Regions from separate parts of the Homo sapiens genome. Here all the other regions are linked to region 1. Evidence: fine-mapped expression QTL. A gene starts in region 1. Each other region holds a variant in brackets. All regions are shown on one strand. Distances are between the middles of the regions.

Region 1 (7,683 bases):
GTCATCAGGGCCTAACTTGTCCCACCACCCACAAAGTGTTCCTAGATACTTATCAGAGTAGTCTATCTTCTCTAGTCTAAATGACCACCCAGACTGTTATAGTTACCACTAGAATTAGGCCTTCCTTCTTTGCTCCCTTCACTTTGTTTTTCAATCTCTTCTCTTTCTTGGTATCTATCACAGTTTTATGTCTTTCTATATTAAACTCTGAACTGCTTCGAAGTAGAGACTGTGTTTCATTCATCTTTATATCACTAGCAACTAGCAAGTACTCCTTTTATTAAATAGAAACAATAAATTTCATTGTGTATGGGTGGGCACAGTAGCTTATGCCTGTAATCCCAGCACTTTGGGAGGCTGAGGTGGGCGGATCACTTGAGGTCAGGAGTTGGAGACCAGACTGGCCAACATTGGTGAAACCCCATCTCTACTAAAAACACAAAAAAAAAAAAAGAAAAAAAAGAACCGGGTATGGTCGTGTGCACCTGTAGTCCCAGCTACTCAAGAGGATGAGGCAGGAGAATTGCTTGAACCTGGAAAGTGGAGGTTGCAGTGAGCCTAGATCACGCCACTACACTCTAGCCTGGGTGACAGAGCAAGACTGCATCTCAACAAATAAATAAACTTAATTATGTAAAAAACTGCATGAATGTATAAGTGATTTATTATATAAGTATTTTATTGCTTCATGACCTGCAGTCAGTGAATATTTCATTTGCTCAAAAGCAATATTAAAAAATTAAACCCCAAACCTCAACCTAGTCTAAAAAAATCTGTTGAATTTCACAGAAATTAAGTGTCACCTGCATAATAAAAGTTCATTGTACAAATGACTAAGTTTATAGGTGACATGCTATTAGTAAATACCGTTTAGTGACCTGCGGTTACTAAATAGTTCATTTGCTTAAAAAATAAAATAGAAAACCTCACCTCAATATGAAAAGTAAAATCTGTTAAATTTCATGGAGTGTATGTACAGTATGTTACATCACTGTATCTGTCATTAAATTCCTCATTCTAAAATTGAAACCAAATAGACTCAAGGGTGATAAAGGCAAAAATGAGACAAGATACCTTTCCAGGTGAATCCAAGTTAAATACAATGCTTCACAGGCTGACTCTTTTCAGCTGACCTGCTTTGTAATTCCAACTGAAATGATTACAGGTAAACAGGAGAGCTGCCATTTCTAAGAGTCAGCCCTGACTACTTCTCTGAGCTCCATAATAAGCTTCTCAGTAACTAGGCAGCCCCTCATAGCTGAGCCACTCTGAACCCACCTGAGCTGTTCATGCAACCTACTTGGGTCAAGAGAATATATTAATACTTATTGTGCATCACAACTTCACAGTAAGTATGTTCTGTTGACACAAATAGGGCGGAGAGGCATGACATCACAGGGTCCCTGGCTTTGCTGGGCTTTCAATCTGACAGAAAGGCACAGTCCACTCATGAGGAGAACAGCTGGGCCCTAATTAACTGCCAAGCTGTCTGGTCTAATGAGAGTGAGGGATGGCATTCCAGGCTGAGCTCTGAGTGCTTCCTTTGCTTGATGGTGGCAGCTCAATTTCTTGAATCTGGACAATATCTTGACTCTGACTAATTCCAGCTTAACAAGAAGGGTGTTGTCTCTCGAATGAATGTAACAGGAAAGCAGAAAAGCATAAAGACAGGGGTGAGCAGGAAACTTGCCCTACTCAAGCAGGAGGTTCATGGAGGCTCAGCTCAACTCTCATTATTGGTGAATTGGTGCAATCTTTTCTGGAGAGCAAATATCTAACAAAATTTTAAACGTACATATTCCATGACCTAGCAGTTATACTTCTAGGAACTTATTCCACAGATATACAGCCACAAGGACATAAATGTGTGTATCATTGCAGCAATGTTGGCAGAAAAAAAAAAAAAACCCCACCTATATAACCCCAGACAGGAACCTGGCTAAAAAGAATATGCAACCATATTTTAAAATGCAGTAGTGGTGTGTGCTTTTAGGTTGATATATTGTTAAATGAGAAAAGCAAGTTAAAGTAGGCACAATATTTACCCATTTATGTTTTCAATAAAAGACTATGCATATGTATGTCATGGATAGAAAATTTCAGAATTACACAAAAAAACTGTTAATGGTAATCCCCTAGGAGTGGGACCCTCTGGTAGGCGGCGAGCGGATTTTATGCTCAACTTTATACCTTTCTGCACTGTTTTAATTTTTTGACCGTGGATGTATTTTATAAACAAAGCAACAAAAGTAAAACGAGAAAGAGACTATGTCATGTCCTATGTAAATTTCTCCTGTTACCAACACTCCCCTCTCAGTCTTCCCTCTTGGCACCTCTCTAGCATCTTGTATTTATAGTAGTTATTAGCAGCCTGGTGGTGAGATAGGCTTGTGTAGACTCCAGTGGAAAAGATTTCTACTTCATCTCTGGGCTGAGGTGTTAAGAGGAAGCTAAAATTCAGCACTGGACACATCTCTGAAATTGCTTATAAAGCAATTTATAAACATCCTAAGCTAGCCCTGTGAACTTTTCTTAGGATCCATTCACCTTTGATCGTCTACCCCATCCCCAAATATATAAGAAAGCTCTACCTTGGAGGGCTTGTACCCAAACAGCATTACAACAGCAGTTTTAAAGTCCTCTCTGCTGAGATATCCTTTGTGATCTTCATCACATGCTTTAAATACCTGAAGAACATTAAATAGCTTTAGTTAATGAGACAGAAATGGTTTATTTTTATTACTAGTTTATTATACAGTTTGGACCTCGAAAATCTAAAACTTGGCCCAGCGGTAGAGTATGAAAATAGAATTTCATTATCCCAATATTAATTCTCAAGAAATCTTAAAGATGGACTGAAATTTTCTTAAACATGGGCTGAAATTTCCCTCAAAGTGCAAACGAGTTAACCGCTAGGTGACGCAAATTAATTCATTTAGGCCACTGAGATAAATTCTACCCAAAATTCAGTCCTGGAGTTAGGAAGGTGAGGCAAAGGGGCTGGCTTTGAAAGGCGGGAGAGATGCAGACTCAAGGTTACCATTAATAGACTATATAGAGAGAAAGGAGATGGAACTTGGAGGTAGCCGTAGTCCTGGACGGGGAGCCAGGAGCCCTGCAGCTCCAGGATCAGTCATTAACCACGACCCTTTGGACAGGCAGCCCAGGTCTTATCTGCACACCCGGCAGAGTGAGACCCAGACACGGGAGAGGAAGCGAGAGGCCCAGGCCAAGCTGAAGTCCGAGGCTCAGTCGCCCTCCGGAAACCTACTTCCACCCACTTCCTGTGTTCCGAGGGACTGGCTTCCCACGTCCGCGACCTGGCTCTGGCCTCGGAGAAGAACATCGCGACTACAACAACCGAGCCCCAGCAACCCAACCAGCTACCACCGCTTTCCCAGCCTGGCTGGCAGCCTACCGCGGCCACGCCCACCGCGGCTCAGGAAGCCGAACTTCACCGCGCAACTCCGACGTCTCCTCCCATTGGACAACCTGCCAGCCACTCGCGTTAATCCCGCAGGGCTATTGGCCAGAGTCTTTGTTTAATTACGTTTCCTTGGAGCCGCCCTGGCAGTGAGGCGCCCAGGCCTGCCCCCAGCACTTGGCTCCACCCCCTGACTGTCCCTTAACTCGTTGAGCGCGGCTGGAAATCCAAGCGCTTCTAGGTGCTGGTTCAATGCCTGGTTCATGATTTATTTCATTCTCTCCCTCCATCTTGCAATAGGTTACTTTTAATCATTTAGATCTATGACACTATGCTAAACGTTATAGGAGACAAAAAGACTGTGAACAAACAAGAAGAACCAAACGAAAAGAGCCAAGTCCAGGATTCTCGTTCAGATCAGCAAGTCATTGGGATCGAGCTCCTAGGGCAGCTACTACATCTGTTATGTCCTCAAGATAATCCCAGCACCTAGCACTGTGCCTGGCACAAAGTAGATCTTCAATGAAAGAACGAAACGAGCCGTTATATTTACACAGATGTATTTCACTCAGTCCTCTGGAAGAGATGCCTAGTGTGAAAGAGATTCCAAGAATAAATACCATAAACAGCACCGAGCCCAAATCCCACAGCAAACATCCTTATTAAAGGCAAGGAACGTGGGGCGAGTTCCTTTTCTCAGAAGATTTTACGAGAACGCAACTGTTGCGAAGAAGGAACAGACATTCGAGGTTCTGAGTCCAATGGGAACTCATTTAACTTTTTATTTTGCAGCAGATTTCAAAGTCTGCACCCAGCCCCTCCCAGGACACAGGTCTCCTTGCAGCTGCCTTTAACCTAAGCGTATCCTCTCTCCACTTTAAACCAAACGCCGCTGCATGGAGCCCTGGGAGCCTGAGCCATGAGAATCCTGTAAAGAGGGTGAGTCTTGCTATTAGTTAACTAGAGCGAAGTTAGGGGACGCCTTTCTGGTTCTCCTCTCGTTTTAAGAAGTCTCCAGGAAGTAAGCCAAGAGCTAGGAGAGACCAGGTTTCCCCAGCCCCGTCCTGGGTAAACACCCGGCGGGCTTTAGGACCCAGCGGTGGGCTCTCCGGAAGGGGAAGGGGCCGGGCCTCGAGGCACAAGCCGCTGCCGCCAGGGTTTGAACTGCGCGCATGCGCGGCGGCCGCCGAAGGGGCGGGATCCGAGGCAAGCGTTGGTTCTGTGCGCCTCAGGTACGTGTTGGGCGGCAGTGGGCGCGGACTCGGTGCGGTCTCTCGCGGGCTGCGGTCGGGCCCGGGATCCTGCTCCTGGCCGAGTCGCGGTGCGCGGGCTGCTGGGGTCCGGCAGGGCTGGAGGCGGACCGCGAGGAAGCGGCGCGGCCGGGAAGATGGGGCAGGGTCGCCTCGGCCCCGGGGCCTCGGTTTCCTCCGATCACAGCGCCTCAGGGGGCGCGCACGGGCGCTGCGGAGACCTGTGTCCTGCCGGGGCGCGGCGCTAGGGGCCCCTGCTCGGGTTTTTATTCCCAGACCTAAGCTTACAGGTGCGTGGTCCCAGAAAGTGAGTAGGAAAGCGCCCACCACGTGCCAGGCGCTTAAGCTTTCTGTGCTCGGTTTCCCAGTATAGGAGGACGGTCACGGTACGTAGTATAGAGTTGTCCTGAGGGTGAAGCGAGTTTACACTTGGTGAGGCGCTTCGAATCGTGCCTGGCCGGCCCCAAATGAGCACGCAGTAAGGTTAGCAGCTGCTGCCGTCACTTCCTCACGTTCTGAATCTGCTCCGTCCCCAACGCCTTCAGCAAGAGCCCTCTCACTTCCTTTGTCTTCAACCCATTCTCCGCAGAGTTGGAGCACACAGCTGTATTAAAAAGGCAAATCGAAGGCCGGGCGCGGTGACTCACGCCTGTCATCCTAGCACTTTGGGAGGCCGAGGCGGCTGAATCACTTGAGGTTAGGAGTTTGAGATCAGCCCGGGCAACATGGTGAAACCCCGTCTCTACAAAAATAGAAAAATTAGCCGAGCGTGATGGTGGATGCCTGTAATCCTAGCTCCTCGGGAGGCTAAGGTAGGAGAATTGCTTGAACCTGGGAGGCAGAGAGGTTGGAGTGAGCCGAGATTGCGCCATTGCGCTCCAGCCTGAGCGGCAGAGCGAGACTCTGTCTCAAAAAAATAAATGTAAATCGGACTCCCCTTCTTAAAGCCCTCAGTGGGGTCCCATTGATCATTGCATAAAATCCAATTTCTTTAACAAGTCTTCTCCCCTCACCCGCTTCGGACCACTGCCTGCCTTGCCTAAGTCCTTTCTTATGACCTCTTTCCCACCTCTGCCGGCTGGGTTCCCTCTACTTGGGAATGCTCTTCACCCCATCATTTAGACAGCAGGTTCCTTTTGGCCCTCTGGGTCTCATTTATATGTTACTTTTTAAGTATATTCCAAAGGTCACCCCTATTTTTCTGTCTCATACTTATAAAATGTAATGAATGTCTAACTCATCTTGGCTATTAAAATTTTTATGTGTGGGTCTGTCTCTTCTGCCCTGAAATTAGCTCTGCTAGGGTAGAAACTATATTGTTAACGCCTCATTCCCAGTTTTTGGTACATAATAGCTGCCCAGTAAGTTATTGAATGAATGAACTCCAGGGGGTAAGCATGATATCCATTTCACAGACTAAAAAACTGAGGCTCAGCAGTTAACTAACCTGCCCAAGTGCACATTTACTCCCTAGTCATGGCCGGGTTTGAGACAAGGGACCATGTTTGCCTATTACTGGCCACACAGGAACTCAATTGAGGAGCATGGCCTCCAGGCCCAGCTGATGGTCTTTAAGCTCAATGAGAAGGAGCAGCTGGAGGTGAAAGAGAAATGCCCCAGCTGGGTCTCATATAGTGGGGAGTGAGGAAACACTAGTAGCTCTAAATGGAGTACCCTTTTATATCCACAACATGTTTTAAAGTCCTTAATAAAAGTGCTAACAGTGTCCTGAGCTAGCATTTGGTGGGAAGATTTCTTAGATTTTTCATGTTAGTGCAGTGTTTGCCAAATTTCACTCACACTCACCTGCCTTCTCCCCAGTTTGCTTTATTCTCTTAACACATGACACAGGATTTATTTCAGGGCCGCTTTGCCAGCTGGAGACCTCCAGCCCTGGGCTGGCTGCAGGAGGTGCCCTGCCCACTCAGCCTGGCAGAATGCATTTGTCTTTCATCCCCGCCCAGATCCCGTGGCCACTATGACTGCATGCTCAGCCCGCGAGGAGTCGGTTTGTGAGTGAGTGAGCAAGCCTGGAGGCCCGGCTGGCTGTTCCAAGTGCTGGCCCAGTCACAGGCTCCATGTAGGGCTTGTGGATGGCCTGGGTGTATGGCAAGTGACTCTGGTAGCAGATTCTGGTGTCCAGACGAGGGGGATGCAGTAGTGCCCAAACACTTGGAGACACCAGGCAAATAGAGATGTATTAACAGCTCTTTTAGTCCCACCATCTGCAGCCCAATGAATGGGGGTGTGTGGCAGCCAGCAGCTCCCTCTCCCATTGCTTCACTAGCGGAACGGAGTGCTACAGGGTTATAGCTCTATTTGCACTCGCTGTTTAGCTGGTCCGAATTTCTTGTCCTGCGTCCAAGAATAATGAGGTTAGGCTGACAACCGAAGGGGAAAAGGGCGGAGGTGAGTTTTACTCAGTGATGAGACAGTTCTCAGCAGAGACGGGACCCCAAGTGGATGGCCCCTGCCCTGACCCCAAGGTGGGCAGTTCGCTGGTGTGACTGAGTCTGGGGCTTTTATGGGCTCAGAATGAGGGAGTGTGTGCTCCATGGTTTGTGAGTATGCAAAAAAGGCTAAAACAAAGGCACCACTCAAAGGTGGGCATGACAATGTAAAAAACCAATTAGGGAAGGGTAGATATATGTAAAGTAGGTGAAGGGTGGGGATTGATCAGAGGAAAGTGTGCCAAGTGGGAAGAGGGGTTATCAATCCGGTCCGTGGATTTACCCAACACTTGTAGCTTGGCTTTCAGGCTTTAAACTGTCTTTGGTTTGCAGGTGGGGTTTCACTGGGGCCCTGCCCCTATCTGCCTAGGGATTTGTCTGCCTCCTGCCGCTATCACATAGACTATCATATACTTAATATTTTTGTTTGAATCCAATCATTCTTTTACATAAAATAAACTTTATTTTGCTATTTCAAATATAACGTAGCCATAAGATACCTTCTGTTGATGGTAAACAAAATTGTTGGTGCCTGCAGAAGAGCCCAAACCCTGCTATT
Region 2 (7,683 bases), 70 kb before region 1:
CCCTCTCCTGTGGTCTCTGCAGGCACCCTGAAGTGACTATCCCAATTACTCTGCATTCTTATTACCCTATTTATTTATTTATTTATTTATTTTGCATTTAGAACAACTGGTGATTATATGGTTGTTATCATTGGTTTAGTTTACTTGATACTGTTTTGCCATTTAATGTTACAGAACAAAATTGTCTACTTCACACCATATCCCCAACTGCCTAGCTCAATGTAAGCAAGTAACAGTTGCCTCAATAAGTCCTTGTTAAAAGAAGTAAAAGGCTGAATAACTGAGCTCTTCATCAACCCCCATATTTAGAGATACACAAAAATCTCAGTTTCTCCAAAATCCACTCTCTACCCATCAATAAAATTTTTATCTAAACTATTTTTAGAGCTACTTATATTTTTGGTCTACTTTATGACTTGGCATATATATATATATTCTTTTTTTTTTTCTTTGTCACCCAGGCTGGAGTGCAGTGGTATAATCTCGGCTCACTGCAAACTCTGCCTCCCAGGTTCAAGTGATTCTCCTGCCTCAGCCTCCTGAGTGGCTGGGATTACAGACATTCACCACCACACCTGGCTAATTTTTGTATTTTTAGTAGAGGCGGGGTTTCACCATGTTGGCCAGGCTGGTCTCAAACTCCTGACCTCAGGTGATCTACCCACCTTGGCCTCACAAAGTGCTGGGATTACAGGCATGAGCCACTGTGCCTGGCCTGGAACTAATATATTTTCAAATTCTACTACCAACTATACAAAATCTGTTCTAAATTTTACTTGTCTTAAATTTTCCTTCATTAAAGAGTAAAGGTATGAAGTTGACAGTGTGCATGCACTTGAACAAAAATAATTTCAAACCTGGGTCTACAACCAAGATCAGTAGCATTAAACATAGGAGCATGTATGCTTAGGGTTACATAAGCAATGTAGTATTACTATAATCAATTAACAGAACTTTGACTTCTATTTATAATGCTTCCAAAAACTGGTTTGCTCAAGAGCACCTGTGTGGAGCTATACTGGTTTTCTAATCCCACTTCCCCTTTCAAACACCTTTTTTCTACTTTACAAAAGAAAGGCACATTTCTTACCTAACATGAATCTTACAATCATGCATTGCCTGAGTGTTGAAAAACTTCCTGGGTGCCAGAGGGACGAATAAAATATTGGTATCTGTGAAGACTTTATTCAATGCATTATAAACTCTTCATTGAGAGGTTCAAATACTACCTTGTCTTATTATTTGTTTCTGTTAAGGGTGAAGCACAATGGGAAATGTATGTGCGGCATATGTTGAGATGGTCTAAATTCAAATATGTTATAGAATACTGATCATTTTGATATAGTGACTTTGACTCTTTCCCCACCATGGACAAAGAATGCACTGCCCTGGGAGAAACTCCTACAAAAGGAAGCCAAGAGATCATCTGTGAGAAACCATCTGTGATGTTTCATTTCATCCAGGTGAAAAACCTACAGCAAGTTTCTATGACTTCTCTCACTCTCTCTCTTTTTTTTCTCTCTCTATCCATTCACTCATCTACTCACCTTAAAATAAGGTTGCTTAAGATTTATATAAGCAATGATGGGAAATACCGATTTCCTACAGAGTGTACCTTCTTTGAATTTTCACTGTTCTTAGGAACAAGAAAAGGCCTGGTGAATGTTCTACCCACCTCTCAGTCTGTGGCTCAGTTACATATAATATACAATTTAAAGAAGGCAGAGCTAAAAAGTCCTACAGCTACCGCTATGGTTTGGATGTTTGTCCCCTCAGACCTCCAGCTGAAATTTGATTCCCAGTGTTAAAAGTGGGGCCCAATGGGAGGTGTTTGGGTCCTGGGGGTGGAAAAGTGGGTCCTCATGAACAGATGAATGTGCTCTCTTGGGGTTGAGGGTGAGTGAGTTCTTACTCTATTAGTTCCCACCAGAGCTGGTTGTTAAGAAGAGCCGGGCGCCTCCCCACTCTTTCTTTTGCTTCCTCTCTTGCCGTGTGATCTCTGCACATGCCAGCTCCCCTTTGCCTTCCACCAAGAGTGGAAGAAATCTGAGGCCTCACCAGATGCAAAACGCCCAATCTTGAACTCTCCAGCCATCAGAATTTTTAGCCAAATAACCCTTTTACATTATAAATTATCCAGCTTCAGGTATTCCTTTAAAGCAACACAAATGGACTAAGATAGTTATCTTAACATAATAATATTCTAGTACATCTTTGAATAAAAGAAATTGATATTAGAGGAATGTTTTGTAGTTTCTTGAAAATTTGTTCAGACTCACAAAAGAAATACTGCCATTAAGCTTTGTCAAAAGGTGACTGAATATATAAATATAGTCATCGCTTGGTATCCATGAAGGACTGGTTCCAGGACCTCCCATGAACACTAAAATTCATAGATGCTTAAGTCTTTACTATAAAATATTGTAGTATTTGCATATAACCTAAGCACATCCTCTTGTATACTTTAAATCATCTCCAGATTATTCATAATGCCTAATACATTGTAAATGGCATGTAAACAGTTGTTATACAATATTGTTTAGGAAATAATGACAAAGAAAAAAGTCTGTATATGTTCAGCGTAGATGTAACTTAAAAAAAATATTTTCTGTCCTCAGTTGGTTGAATCCACAGACATGGAACTTGCTGATATAGAGGGCCAAATGTACATTTACTTTTTATTTGGACACAAATGCCAAGTCACCTGTCACTTCTAAACCACTTCTCTGTTCATTTAATTATTCTTCCCAAGTACCTGTTAGATATAGACAAATTTAACAGCATTGTGGAATCTACTACAAATAATGTCCATATAGTCAGGTACAGTGGCTTACATCTGTAATCCAGCTACTCAAGAGATGGAGGTGGGAGACTGCTTGAGGCCAGGAGTTCAAGACTAGCCTGGGCAACAGAGTGAGACCTCATCTCCAAAAAAGTTTTAAAAAACTAGCTGGGCATAGTAGCACATGCCCATAGTCCCAGCTACTCCAGAGGCGGAGGTGGGAAGATTGCTTGAGCCCAGGAGTTTGAGGCTATAGTGAGCCATGCTCTCACCACTGCACTCCAACCTGGGCAACACAGGGAGACTCTGTCTCTAAAAAATAATAAGAAAACAGTAATTTTTAAATGCCCTTAACAAAAAAAAATTATACAATTGTATATCCTCTAAGCCTCACATTTACTAATGGTACAATAGTTCTATTTTTACTATTGGTCTACTGCATATCATCATCACATTAACAGGGTAAAGGAGAAAAATATGATTATGGCAACATGAGCAGAAAAAGCATTTAATAAAAGTCAGTATTTATTCATGATAAAATTTCTTAGCAAAGCAGGAGCTCCCTTAATCTAATAAAGGTTATTTATCCCCTAAAAACATAACAAAACCCAAAAACCTATTGCATATTCCATAGTTAATGTGAAATACTAAAGTTTTCCCCTCCCCCCACCAAGATGGGGAAGAAACAGGATACCTGCTCACATAACTTTTATTTATCACTATGTGGGAGACCCTAGCTGATATAGTAAGAAAAGAAAAAGAAATCAATGACATAAGAATTGGAAAAGAAGAAATAAAACTACTATTGTTTGAAGATGACTTGATTGCATGCCTAGAAAACATAAAATATATACTATTACAATTACTAAGACGAAGTACTAGAATAAGTTAACTTTGTATTATGTACTGAATGTGTGTGCCCACTCCTGCTCTAAATTCTGTGTCGAATCCCTCACCCACAATGTGACAGTATTTGGAGGTGGTGTCTTTGGGAAGTAATTAGGTCATGAGAGTGGGACCATCATAAGGGATTAGTGCTCTTATAAGAAGAGCAAGAGATCCCCCACTCTGTGCACATGTCCAGGAAAGGACCCAGAAGCACACAGCCAGGCAGGCAGCCATCTGCAAGCCAGGAAGAGCCTCCTCACCAGAACCAGACCATGCTGGCATCTGATTGCAGACTTCGCAGTCTTAAGAACTGTGAGAAAATAAATTTCTGTTGTTTAAGCCACCCAGTCTATGGTATTCTGTTACAACAGACGGACTAGACTAAGACATTCAGTCATGCTGCTGGTGTAAGACCAGCATATAAAAAACAATTGTATATCTAAATAAGTAGAAAATAAAATTTAAAAATCTATATAACTACATAAAAACCAAATATTTCAGAATTATCTGATA[A/C]AATATGTGTAAAACTTTTACATTAAAACTACAAAACAGCAAGGAAAGTTAAATAAGACCTTTAAAAACAAAAGGATATACTTTATTCATGCACTGGAAGACTTAAAACATTTTGGCATTGTCAGTTCTCCCCAAATTGATCTAGTCTAAAGATTCAATATAAATTCAATTAAAAACCCAGCCAGCGGGCGTGGTGGCTCAAGCCTGTAATCCCAGCACTTTGGAAGTCTGAGGCAGGTGGATTACGAGATCAGGAGATCGAGACCATCCTGGCTAACATGGTGAAACCCCATCTCTACTAAAAATACAGAAAATTAGCCAGGCGTGGTAGCGTGCGCCTGTAGTCCCAGCTACTTGGAGGCTGGGGCAGAAGAATCGCTTGAACCTGGGAGGTGGAGGTTGCAGTGAGCTGAGATCGCACCACTGCACTCCAGCCTGGGTGACAGAGCAAGACTCTGTTGAAAAAAAAAAAGAGAGAAAGAGAGAGAAAGAGAGAAAGAAAGAGAGAGAGAAAGAGAGAGAGAGAGAAAGAAAGGAAAGAAAGGAAAGAAAGAAAGAAAGAAAGAGAGAAAGAAAGAAAGAAGACAGCAACTAAAAGAAAGAAAGAAGGAAAGAGAAAGAAAGAAGACAGCAACTTTTGGGTTTGAAGTTGGCTTCTTGTTTTTTTCTTTTTTTTTCTTTGGTGGAAATTGAAAAACTGACTCTAAAATTTATTTTAAAACACAATGGGCTAAAAATAGCCAAGATAATTCTGAAGAAAACACAAAGCTCTAGGACTTACACTGCCAGACATCAAGATTACAAAGTTATATAATAAAGAGAGTGTGATACTGGCACAAAGATAGACAAACAGACCAATGCAACATAACAGAGAGTCAAGGGAAGAGTTAATGTTGCAGCCTCAAATCTGAAGGCAGCCTGTGGGCAGAACTGCTTCTTCCCTGGGGGACCTACATGTTTTCTCTTAAGGCATTCAACTGATTAGATGAGGCCCTCTCACCTTATAGAAAGTGATCTGCTCGGTCAGGCGTGGTGGCTCATGCCTGTAATCCCAGCACTTTGGGAGGCCAAGGCTGGTGGATCACGAGGTCAGGAGATCAAGACCATCCTGGCCAACTCTGTGAAACCCCGTCTCTACTAAAAATACAAAGAAATGAGCCGGGCGTGGTGGCGGGTGCCTGTAGTCCCAGCTATTCGGGAGGCTGAGGCAGGAGAATGGCATGAACCCTGGGGGCGGAGCTTGCAGTGAGCTGAGATCGCGCCACTGCACTCCAGCCTGAGCAACAGAGCGAAACTCCGTCTCAAAAAAAAAAAAAAAAAAAAAAAAAAAGGAAAGTGATCTGCTTTACTCAAGATCTACTGATTTAAGTATATCTTAAAAATATCAAGACTGGTTTTTGATCAAACACTGAGGCAAATATGACAAATATTAAGACAAGATAAAGGGAAGTGGCTGAAATGCAAGTGTTACACCATATTATTCTCCATACTTTTCTATGTTTAAAATATTTCTAATGGACACAAAGAGATCAAAGTATGTATTTAGTATCTCGATATTTGGAAAGACTCCTGATTTATTGCAGTTTTGGTAATTTACAGCAGATACACAATTCTCAGAGACAGCCCAAAGAGTCAGAAAATTTAATCAGGCTTAGAGATTAAATATATCCATTGTTAACTTTTTAGTTAGCTAATTATTATAACCTAAACCTAAGGTCAGTCTGGATACCTTCTTCACATCCTAAATAATCCACAGAAAATCTTATAGATTTGAATTAACAAAGATCAAATACCATACTAATATAAACAGATTGTTTTTATAGTCTTTAATAAATTCATTAATTTATTCAACAAGTGCTCTGAACTAACCTGAACATCCAGAGGTATTCAAGAACAGACAACATCACTGCTCTCATGAAGCTTTATAGTCAAGCCTGACAGATAGACAATAAGGAAACAAAAACAAAAATCTTCCCTGAGATTTGCTAACTGCTATGAATGACATAAAACCAGGCAGCAGAGATTTACTGGGGATGGGAGATGGAGTGAAGTCACTTTGGATAGGAAAGGCCTCTCTGATGATGTGATATTTAAACAGGGAACTACAAATGCAAAGATCTGAAATAGAAGGTAGCAAACAACTAGATACACATGATCACATAGGAGTAATAAATTAGACATAAGCTTTCTAAGCCTATGGAAACACAGGGCCATTTATCATGTGTAGTTTGAAGTTTTGGAATTCTTTTTAAAAAGTAAAACTAGAAATAATTTGTTTTCTATCCATAAACATTTAAGTAAGTGTCATGCCTAGGTCATATAGCATGACTCCTTATGTGGTATTTAAGTAAAAACAGTACTAAGGTATTAAATTGAAATAAAGTAACACTGAAAATAAATAACAAGGAATCCTTAAGGTATTTACTGAAAGAAACCAGTAAAAGTCAACCTTTTTCTTACATATGTACCAACCATTTAGAAAAGACAACAGACTGTAAATATATTCCTGGGAACAGGTGTTATGGAATAAAGAAAGCAAACTTAGGCAGGGATCAAAAAAGCAGGTGACTATGAACAGTAAAATAATATTACAGTAAGACATTAAACATCTGTATCATATTTCAGCACGTGTTAACACTCGCATTTTTCTTGAAGCTATAATATATTTTCTTGGAAATGGATATAGCAAATAGTGAATCTTCTCATTTCAATTCTAAAAAAATAATCTAAAGTATACTTGTAGAGAGGCAAGCTCTTAGTTATCAGCTATATCCCAGATGGCCCTCTAGCAGCATTTAAAGGCCATGCCCTTAAGTCACTGTTCAACATACTGAGGTAGATAATACGGCCAATACAATGATGAGAATTACAAAGAAGGAAATAAAACAGAAAATGCTGTTGCTATGGTCTGAATATTTGTGCCTGCCCCAAATGCATATGTTAAAACCTAATCACCAATGTGATGGCTGGAGGTGGGGCCTTTGGAAGGTAATTAGGTCATAAAGGCTGAACCCCCATGAATGGGATTGGTGCCCTTATAAGGGGCTGAAGAGACTAGAGTTCTCTCCTTTCACCATATGAAGACTGTAGTAGGCTGTTCTTGCATTGCTATAAAGAAATATCTGAGCTTAGATAATTTATAAAGACAAGGTTTAGATGGCTTATGGTTCTGCAGGCTTTACAGGAAGCATGGCGTTGGCATCTGCTTGGCTTCTGGGGAAGCCTACAATCATGGCAGAAGGTAAAGCAGGAGCAGGCATGTCACATGGCCAGAGCAGGAACAAGAGTTGGAGCAGGGGAAGTGCTACACACTTTTAAATGGCCAAATCTCACAAGAACTCACTAACATGAAGACAGCACCAAGCCTTGAGGGATCTGTCCCCATGATCCAGACACCTCCCACCAGGCCCCACCTCCAGCATTGGGGATTACAGTTCAACATGAGATTTGGGTGGGAACAAATGTCCAAACTATATCAAGGACACATTTAGAAGGTACCA
Region 3 (7,683 bases), 76 kb after region 1:
CTTCCGTAGGCCCCTTTTTCTCGTTGTACAATGGAAACAATGTAACTCATAGGATCTCATGTGAGATCAAGAGTTATAACCCATAAAGTGTTTACAACAGTGCCTGGTACTTAGCAAGTCTCAGTAAAGGTTGCAGTTGACATTAGCAGTAGCAGCAACAGCATATAAGCCACACAGTTCAACAGAAGGTTGAAAGCAGGGGCTGATACTCCATGGGTTTTCAGTCAAATCAGAATCTTGATGTCACTTCTGTGATGACGTTGCACTCTTTTCTTTCCTTCTGAACTGCATTCCCCCAGCCCCACACAAACAGCCCTTTGCTTATCAAAAACCCATCCTTCAAAATCCTGTTAGGTTTACACTTCTCCACAAAGCTTTTCCTAAGCCCCTAGCTGGAAGCACTTCCAGTTGTTGATCCTATACTGCCTTGCAGGAAAGATGCCACCACCTTCCTATAATTTACTTCCTTGCCAATTAGTTGGTCTTTGACTAAGTGTGCCCCTTCTGGGAAGTTCAGCTGCTATCACTGTTTTATCCAGGAAAGCCTGATGCCTTGTGTAGGGTTTTACCACTTGAGGTTGCTACTCGGATAGCTGCAAATAAAAACATAAATTACATCTCTAACTGAAACTGAAGCATGCCTCCTGTTCCCTATGATTGAGCTAAGCTGCTAAACATAAATCATCAGAGCGACAATCAGCTCTTTCACTCCCAAAGCTGAAGAAAGGAAAAGCCAGCAATTTCTCATGTGTGATATATGTCCACCCTCTCACCTGGTGTTTTATAAACGTATTGTCTTAACTGTCTTCTAAGTATCTGTGCCTGGGAGGGTGCCTTCCTCTGTTTTGTAAAATGCCAAGTGATACCACTGTGATATATAAATAATGATAATTAGAAGACAGCCTCAAATTATTTGACATTCAGATTGAAGGGGAAAGTAGTACTTTTTTTTGTAATAACCTAGAATTTGGATCAGAAATGGCATTCAAAATAAAAGCATATTGGTTTCTGTCAGACAGGGATAGTTCAAACCTTCTCATATCTGAGGTCGAATATCACAAAATGGAGTCATGGGTCGAGCACACAGCCTCAGATCTGGGCCCAGGCTGTAAAGAACCATAACCTGTGGCCACGATATATTTGAAAATATCAGGACTAATAGGAGCTAAAGAAGAGAGAAGTCATTTTTTACCTGAAACTCCATAAAAGTATAATAATCATTAACTTGGAATCACTTCCCAGCCACTAGCCTCTTTGTTTTTTAAAATGTCCAAATACCAGGGTTTCTAGAATTTGGCTCATCTTGACCCTGCCTGCCTTAAATTTTCAAGGAATTCTTCCTTTGTCATAGTTCCTGGTGGTGAATGTGAGACCATTTGTTTGCTTGGTGGAAGGAATGTAGGACCAAGAATCAGAAAGACGGTTTGATTTCCAGCCCTGCCATTATTTTTTTTTTTTTTTTTTTTTGAGACAGAGTCTCGCTTTGTCACCCAGGCTGGAGTGCAGTGGTGCCATCCTGGCTCACTGCAACCTCCGCCTTCTGGGTTCAAGTGATTCTCCTGCCTCAGCCTCCTAAGTAGCTGGGATTACAGATGCGCACTACCACACCTGGCTAATTTTTTGTATTTTTAGTAGAGATGGGGTTTCTCCGTGTTGGCCAGGCTGGTCTCGAACTCCTGACCTCAGGTCATCCGCCCGCCTCGGCCTCACAAAGTGCTGGCATTACAGGCATGAGCCACCGCACCCGGCCTTTTTTTTTTTTTTTTTGAGACAGAGTTTCATCACTGTCACCTAGGCTGGAGTACAGTGGCTCGATCTCGGCTCAGTGCAACCTCTGCCTCCTGGATTCCAGCGATTCTCCTGTCTCAGCCTCCCAAGTAGCTGGGATTACAGGCATACTCCACCATGCCTGACTAATTTTTGTATTTTTAGTAGAGACAGGGTTTCACTATGTTGATCAGGCTGGTCTCGAACTCCTGACCTCAGGTGATCCACCCGCCTTGGCCTCCCAAAGTGCTGGGATTACAGGTGTGAGCCATTGTGCCCGGCCTTGCCACTTTTAATAGCTGTGTGGCCTTGGGCAACTATTTAACCTCCAAATATGTTTCCTTCTCTGTAAAATAGGAGTGATTACATCACAGAGAATTGTCCTGAAAATACTTATAATTATACTCATTTGTTTCCTGGAATAAGTACCATGGGCCAGTCATTGTTAAATAACTTAAATATCCTCACAGTAGCCCTATGAATTAGGTGCTCATATCATCTTCATTTCATAAACGAGGAAACCAGGGCCCAGAAAGGCTAAGTAACTTGCTTAGAGCCACACAGCAAGTAAGCAGTCTGCAAAAGCAAGAGATAATTAGGGACTTCCTCAGATCCAGAGTGTGTCAAAGGTAACATGTGAGCAGGGAAACCTGGGGGCAGGTGCTGCCGAGCTGGCCTGCCTGCCCTCCGTGTCTTCCCTGTCCCCCTCCTCTGTGTCTTCCCTGTCACCCTCCTCTGTGTCAGTGCCCTCGCCCTCCCGGGATGTGCCTGCTCTGTGCTTTGCTGACCCTGCCTTTGATTATGCTGTTCTCACGCTTGGTATTCTTCCCTATCATCTCTCTGTTTATTAAAATTACACCAATTTTTCAAGCCCTAGCTAAAATATCCTCTACAAAGCCTTTCCTTATCCTTCTTGGATAAGGAAAATGACTAGAAGAAGGGCACTTCTTCCTATTCTGTCTAGAGTTTGTGCCTGGCATCTGCCACCTCCTGCCTTTCACTGTATTACTGATCACCATCTTCATCAGTGCTGTAACCCATACCTTTCTGTAGGTCTTGACATGCACAAAACACTTTCACACAGGTTGTGCCATTTGCTCTTATGCAGAAACTTATAAAGGAAGCAGGAAAGGAACTTTAGTTCCATTTCTACAGATCGGTATTTCTTGAACACCTACTATGTACCAGGACTTGTGCTGGGTGCTAAAGTTAGAAATGGTAATGTCTCCAGAAGCTTGATTATCTCATTTTTACTCTTTTTTTTTTTTGAGATGGAGTTTCACTCTGTCACCTAGCCTGGAGTGCAGTGGCGTGATTTTGGCTCACTGCAACCTCTGCCTTCTGGGTTCAAGCTATTCTCCTGCCTCAGCCTCCCAAGTAACTGAGATTACAGGCACACACCACCACTCCAGTTAATTTTTTTTTTTGTATTTATTTATTAGAGATGTGGTTTCACCATGTTGTCTAGGCTGGTCTTGAACTCCGGACCTCAAGTGATCTGCCTGCCTCGGCCTCCCAAAGTGCTGGGATTACAGGTGTGAACCACCACACTCAGCCTTTCCCACTTTTACAAACACAGAACATTTTTTTTTAAATTTTATTATTATTATACTTTAAGTTTTAGGGTACATGTGCACAATGTGCAGGTTAGTTACATATGTATACATGTGCCATGCTGGTGTGCTGCACCCATTAACTTGTCATTTAGCATTAGGTATATCTCCTAAAGCTATCCCTCCCCCCTCCCCCCACCCCACAACAGTCCCCAGAGTGTGATGTTCCCCTTCCTGTGTCCATGTGTTCTCATTGTTCAGTTCCCACCTATGAGTGAGAATATGCGGACAAACACAGAAATTGAAACCTAGGCACAGTGGCTCACACCTGTAATCCCAGCACTTTGAGAGCCTGGGGTGGGTGGATCACTCGAGGCCAGGAGTTCAAGACCAGCCTGAACAACATGGTGAATCCCTGTCTCTACTAAAAATACAAAAATCTGCCAGGCATGGTGGTGCATGCTTGTAATCCCAGCTGCTCGGGAGGCTGAGGCATGAGAACTGCTTGAACCCGGGTGGCAGAGGCTGCAGTGAGCCGAGATCACACCACTGCACTCCAGACTGGGTGACAGAGTGAGACTCTGTCTCCAAAAAA[C/A]AAAGAAACCTAATAAAAGTGGCCAACTGTCCCACTCAACATCTGTTTTAGTCCCTGGGACCTGCCAGGCTCTTTGCCACCTCTGGGCCTTTGCGGATGCTGTTCCCTCCACCTGCAACATAATTCTTTCCACTCCCACCTGACCAAACTCTGCTCATCTTTCAGAGTTTAATAAAGGTGTTGCTTTTTTAAGAGAGGCTTCCACTGATCACCCGCTCCTGCCAAGTCTAAAATAGGCCTGCTATTCTCTTATGGCACTCCTTTGCTTTTCTTTGCAGCACTTAGCACAAATAGTAATTTTTATTTTACTTTTATAGATGTATTTTATGTCCCTCCACCAGACTGTATACTCCATGAGGACAAGGATATTGATGTTTATGTTAACTCTTGTACACTCAGTGCCTGGCACCATGCCTGACCCAGAAGAGGGACTCGAGAAATAAAGTGTCGAATGAACGAATGTGCAGACATCAGTCATTTACTCAGCTTAATAAATGCCAGAGAAAAGTCTAGAACCCAGATTATCTGAAGCCCAGTCAACACGGACCTCCCCATGTTCTTTGACACTGCCCATGACCAGCCTCCGCTTGCTAAGTTGCACCTCAGTCTTTGTTCTTTTTATGGGTTCCTAAGACATCAGCACTGTTGGGTATGTGCCTATTGAGGATTTGAAGGGTGGATATGTGTGTGGATGGGTGGACAGAAGGAATGAGAGACAGACGGACAAGCAGAATGCCAGGATGATCCACGAAGGGGCAGGAGTTGGTCAATGTATGGAAGCACGAGGGGGCACATCGGTCATGTGGTAAGCACCTGCACTGCGGCAGGCCTTGTGTTGGAAGGAAGTGGCAGTGTGAACATCAGCCTAGATATAGAACCTCCACTTCCACCCTGATTAAGATCTAAAATTAATACCCTATTCTAGAGTTCTTGGAATAAACCTTCCATTTTGATAGGTCTTAAAGAATTTTCATTTTTATACTTCTGTCACATTATATTGGAACACTTTCATTATACATGAAAGCAGCTTTTATTTCTTCTTACTCCAGGCAGCCTGTTACTATAGCAATGTTGGAAGTATTTTGAGGTATTTTTATACAGTGAGTTCTACAAACTCCCTGCAAACTGTACATAATGTTGGGTTGAAATGGGCTATCATATCCAAAATTGTCTCTCTTGTTTCTTTGTATCCTTTGAAAACTTTTGCAAACTTTGCTATAACTTAATTCCTGAAAATTAAAGCTCTTATGTTTAGAAAGGAAAATAATTTGGGGCGGGGGGGTTGTAAATATATTTGCCTATGAACATTGAAAATACCTCCAAAATAATTTGAATTTTATTTAGGTACCATAAAGATATTATTGCTTCTTGAGGCCTTCTGGTTTTTTTTTTTAAACCCAGAAAATGGGGTGCAATCATAGATTTCCTCTGTGTGTCTGCAGGGTCTAGACAGTTTCAAAGTGAAACAGAAGTTCTTCGCTGGCAGCCAGGAGCCAATGGCCACCTTTCCTGTGCCATATGATTTGCCTCCAGAACTGTATGGAAGTAAAGGTGAGACACAGATAAAGGAAAACCACGGGTGGATATGCATAAGAAAAACAAACAGAGCCCAGGAGAAGCCTTTGGTCTCAGTGGGATCCTGGCTCATGGAACCCTCTGGAAGCTCAAGTTTGCAGAGGGCCCTTTGCCAGCCTGTCTGGGGCCTTGTAGCCACTGGTTAGTCTTGGAATCCCTTTGCACTCCTATAATTACTATACAGATCCTTCCTGACTTACACTGGGGCTACATGCTGATAAACCCCTCATGAATTGAAAATATCATAAGTCAAAAATGCATTTAATGCGTCAAATCTACTGAGCACCATAGCTTAGTCTAGCCTACCCTAAACATGATCAGACCTCTTAAATTAGTCTACACTTGGGCAAAATAAATCAAAGACTGTTTTATAATAAATTGTTGACTATCTCATAGAATTTATTGGAGACTACTAAAGTACTGTTTCTACTGAATGCGTATCACTTTCACACCATCATAAAGGTCAAAAGGTCATTAAGTCTAACTATTAGAAATTAAAACCAAGAAATGTAACAATAATAAATCTATTGTAACGTACATTTATGCCAGGCACGGTGGCCCACACCTGTAATCCCAGCACCCTTGGAGGCCGAGGCAGGAATATTGCTTGAGGCCAGGAGCCCAAGGCCACCTTGCCCAACATAGCGAGAACCAGTATGTAAAAAAAAATTTGTTTTAAATAGCCGGGTGTGGTGGATCATGCCTGTAGTTCCAACTATTTGGATGGCTGAGGTAGAAGAATCGCTTGAGCCCAGGAGTTTGAGGCTGCAGTGAGCTATGATTGAGCCACTGCACTCCAGCCTGAGTGACAGAGCAAGACCCCAACTCTAAGGAAAAAAAAAAGTTCTTATGACAATTTCCAAAAAGAAGAAAATAGCAAGGAAAGTGGTGTTTTATGTTTTTGCAAGCCTCTTTATGTGCATCTTAAAAGGTGACACCTGAATTCTCATTGCTGTGTTCTCATTGAGGCTGTTGTGATATCACATCGCATAGCCTCTGTATACCTGTGTAAAAATGAAAATGAAAACAACAAATGATGGCTTAATACTACAATGAAAATAATGTTGACTTCACAGGCCCTCCCAACCACCATGCTCACAAACCCTCAAAAGGGAGGTCCCCAGGGGCTACACTTTGAAAACTGCATGCATTGAGTCTTAAGGGCAGTGACCAAGTATCTTTCACAGTAGAAACACAATAGGAATAGCTGCAGAAGGTTCAGTTGTGCTCAGAGGAAGGCTGGCTGGCATCAGTGTACCCACCTATGTCTGGCCTGCGTGTGTCCCAGCCTCACAGGCTGCTCTGCTGCTTTTATCAGCCCTGAGAATATCTGTCTTTAAGGTGGGTCCACACTTAGCAAACTCAGACAGGATGAGATATATAATCAAGACACACTTAATTTAAAATGGCAAATTACATCACCAAATCAGCATATTCTCCACTGGAAAGGAGAGGCCCACATAGCCAAATTATAATCTGCAGGTTTCTGAGCCAGTGTTAAATCTGAACAGAGAAAAGATTTTTTTTTCAATTGGCAAATTTTAATGACATCACTCATTGATACCCCAAAATCTCCAGTTCTTACCAAGCTTGGCCTTGCCCAGTGGTTCCTCTGTTCCCTCAACAATGTTTCATGGAATCTAACAACTTCCCTACCCACTAACCTTCTCAGCTTTCATGGTGAACCAAGCCTCCTCTGTCGCACTAACCTTCCCAGCTTTCATGGTGAACCAAGCCTCCTCTGTCCCGCTAACCATTCTCAGCTTTCATGGTGAACCAAGCCTCCTCTGTCCCGCTAACCTTCTCAGCTTTCATGGTGAACCAAGCCTCCTCTGTCCCGCTAACCATTCTCAGCTTTCATGGTGAACCAAGCCTCCTCTGTCCCACTAACCTTCTCAGCTTTCATAGTAAACCAAGCCTTCTCTGTCTGATGGGCCCTTTCTTAGATGGTGTTAACACATCTGACAAAGTTAATCCTATCTCATGCTGTCCAGTGTGCCATCCTGCCTCTTGCTGGTAACTTTGTATTTCTCTAATCAATAGTTTGATGCTAAGTTTCAGGAGGCATTCTTTTTCTCCTTTCTAAAGTGTGGAAATCCCCTATGCCTTTCTGTTGAGTCCTCTAAATTTCTTGTGTATTCATGCATATTTCGTTTTCGGTAGCAAGGCTATCTAGATTTTTATCAGAATTTA

The links. PIP is the estimated chance that this variant, and not a neighbour inherited with it, causes the effect.
Region 2: its variant is fine-mapped to the expression of TDP1 in whole blood (INTERVAL, PIP 0.97).
Region 3: its variant is fine-mapped to the expression of TDP1 in whole blood (TOPMed, PIP above 0.99).

Annotation. Positions count from the first base shown.
Region 1 is chr14:89,951,315-89,958,997 of GRCh38, forward strand. It overlaps TDP1 (tyrosyl-DNA phosphodiesterase 1), which reads left to right and starts at 4,613. Exons shown (of 17, transcript NM_018319.4): 1 at 4,613-4,656; 2 at 5,264-5,486. It overlaps EFCAB11 (EF-hand calcium binding domain 11), which reads right to left and starts at 3,416. Exons shown (of 6, transcript NM_145231.4): 1 at 3,272-3,416; 2 at 2,592-2,687. The coding sequence starts at 3,346. RefSeq lists enhancers at 3,145-3,645, 6,671-7,179 and a silencer at 4,711-4,940.
Region 2 is chr14:89,881,032-89,888,714 of GRCh38, forward strand. All of the region lies in intron 5 of EFCAB11 (EF-hand calcium binding domain 11), which reads right to left. Among named protein-coding and RNA genes, the nearest start is that of EFCAB11, 70 kb to the right of the region's middle. RefSeq lists a silencer at 1,009-1,128. The variant A/C (reference allele first, on the strand shown) is at 4,184.
Region 3 is chr14:90,027,749-90,035,431 of GRCh38, forward strand. It overlaps TDP1 (tyrosyl-DNA phosphodiesterase 1), which reads left to right. Exons shown (of 17, transcript NM_018319.4): 16 at 5,358-5,466. Among named protein-coding and RNA genes, the nearest start is that of KCNK13, 30 kb to the right of the region's middle. The variant C/A (reference allele first, on the strand shown) is at 3,916.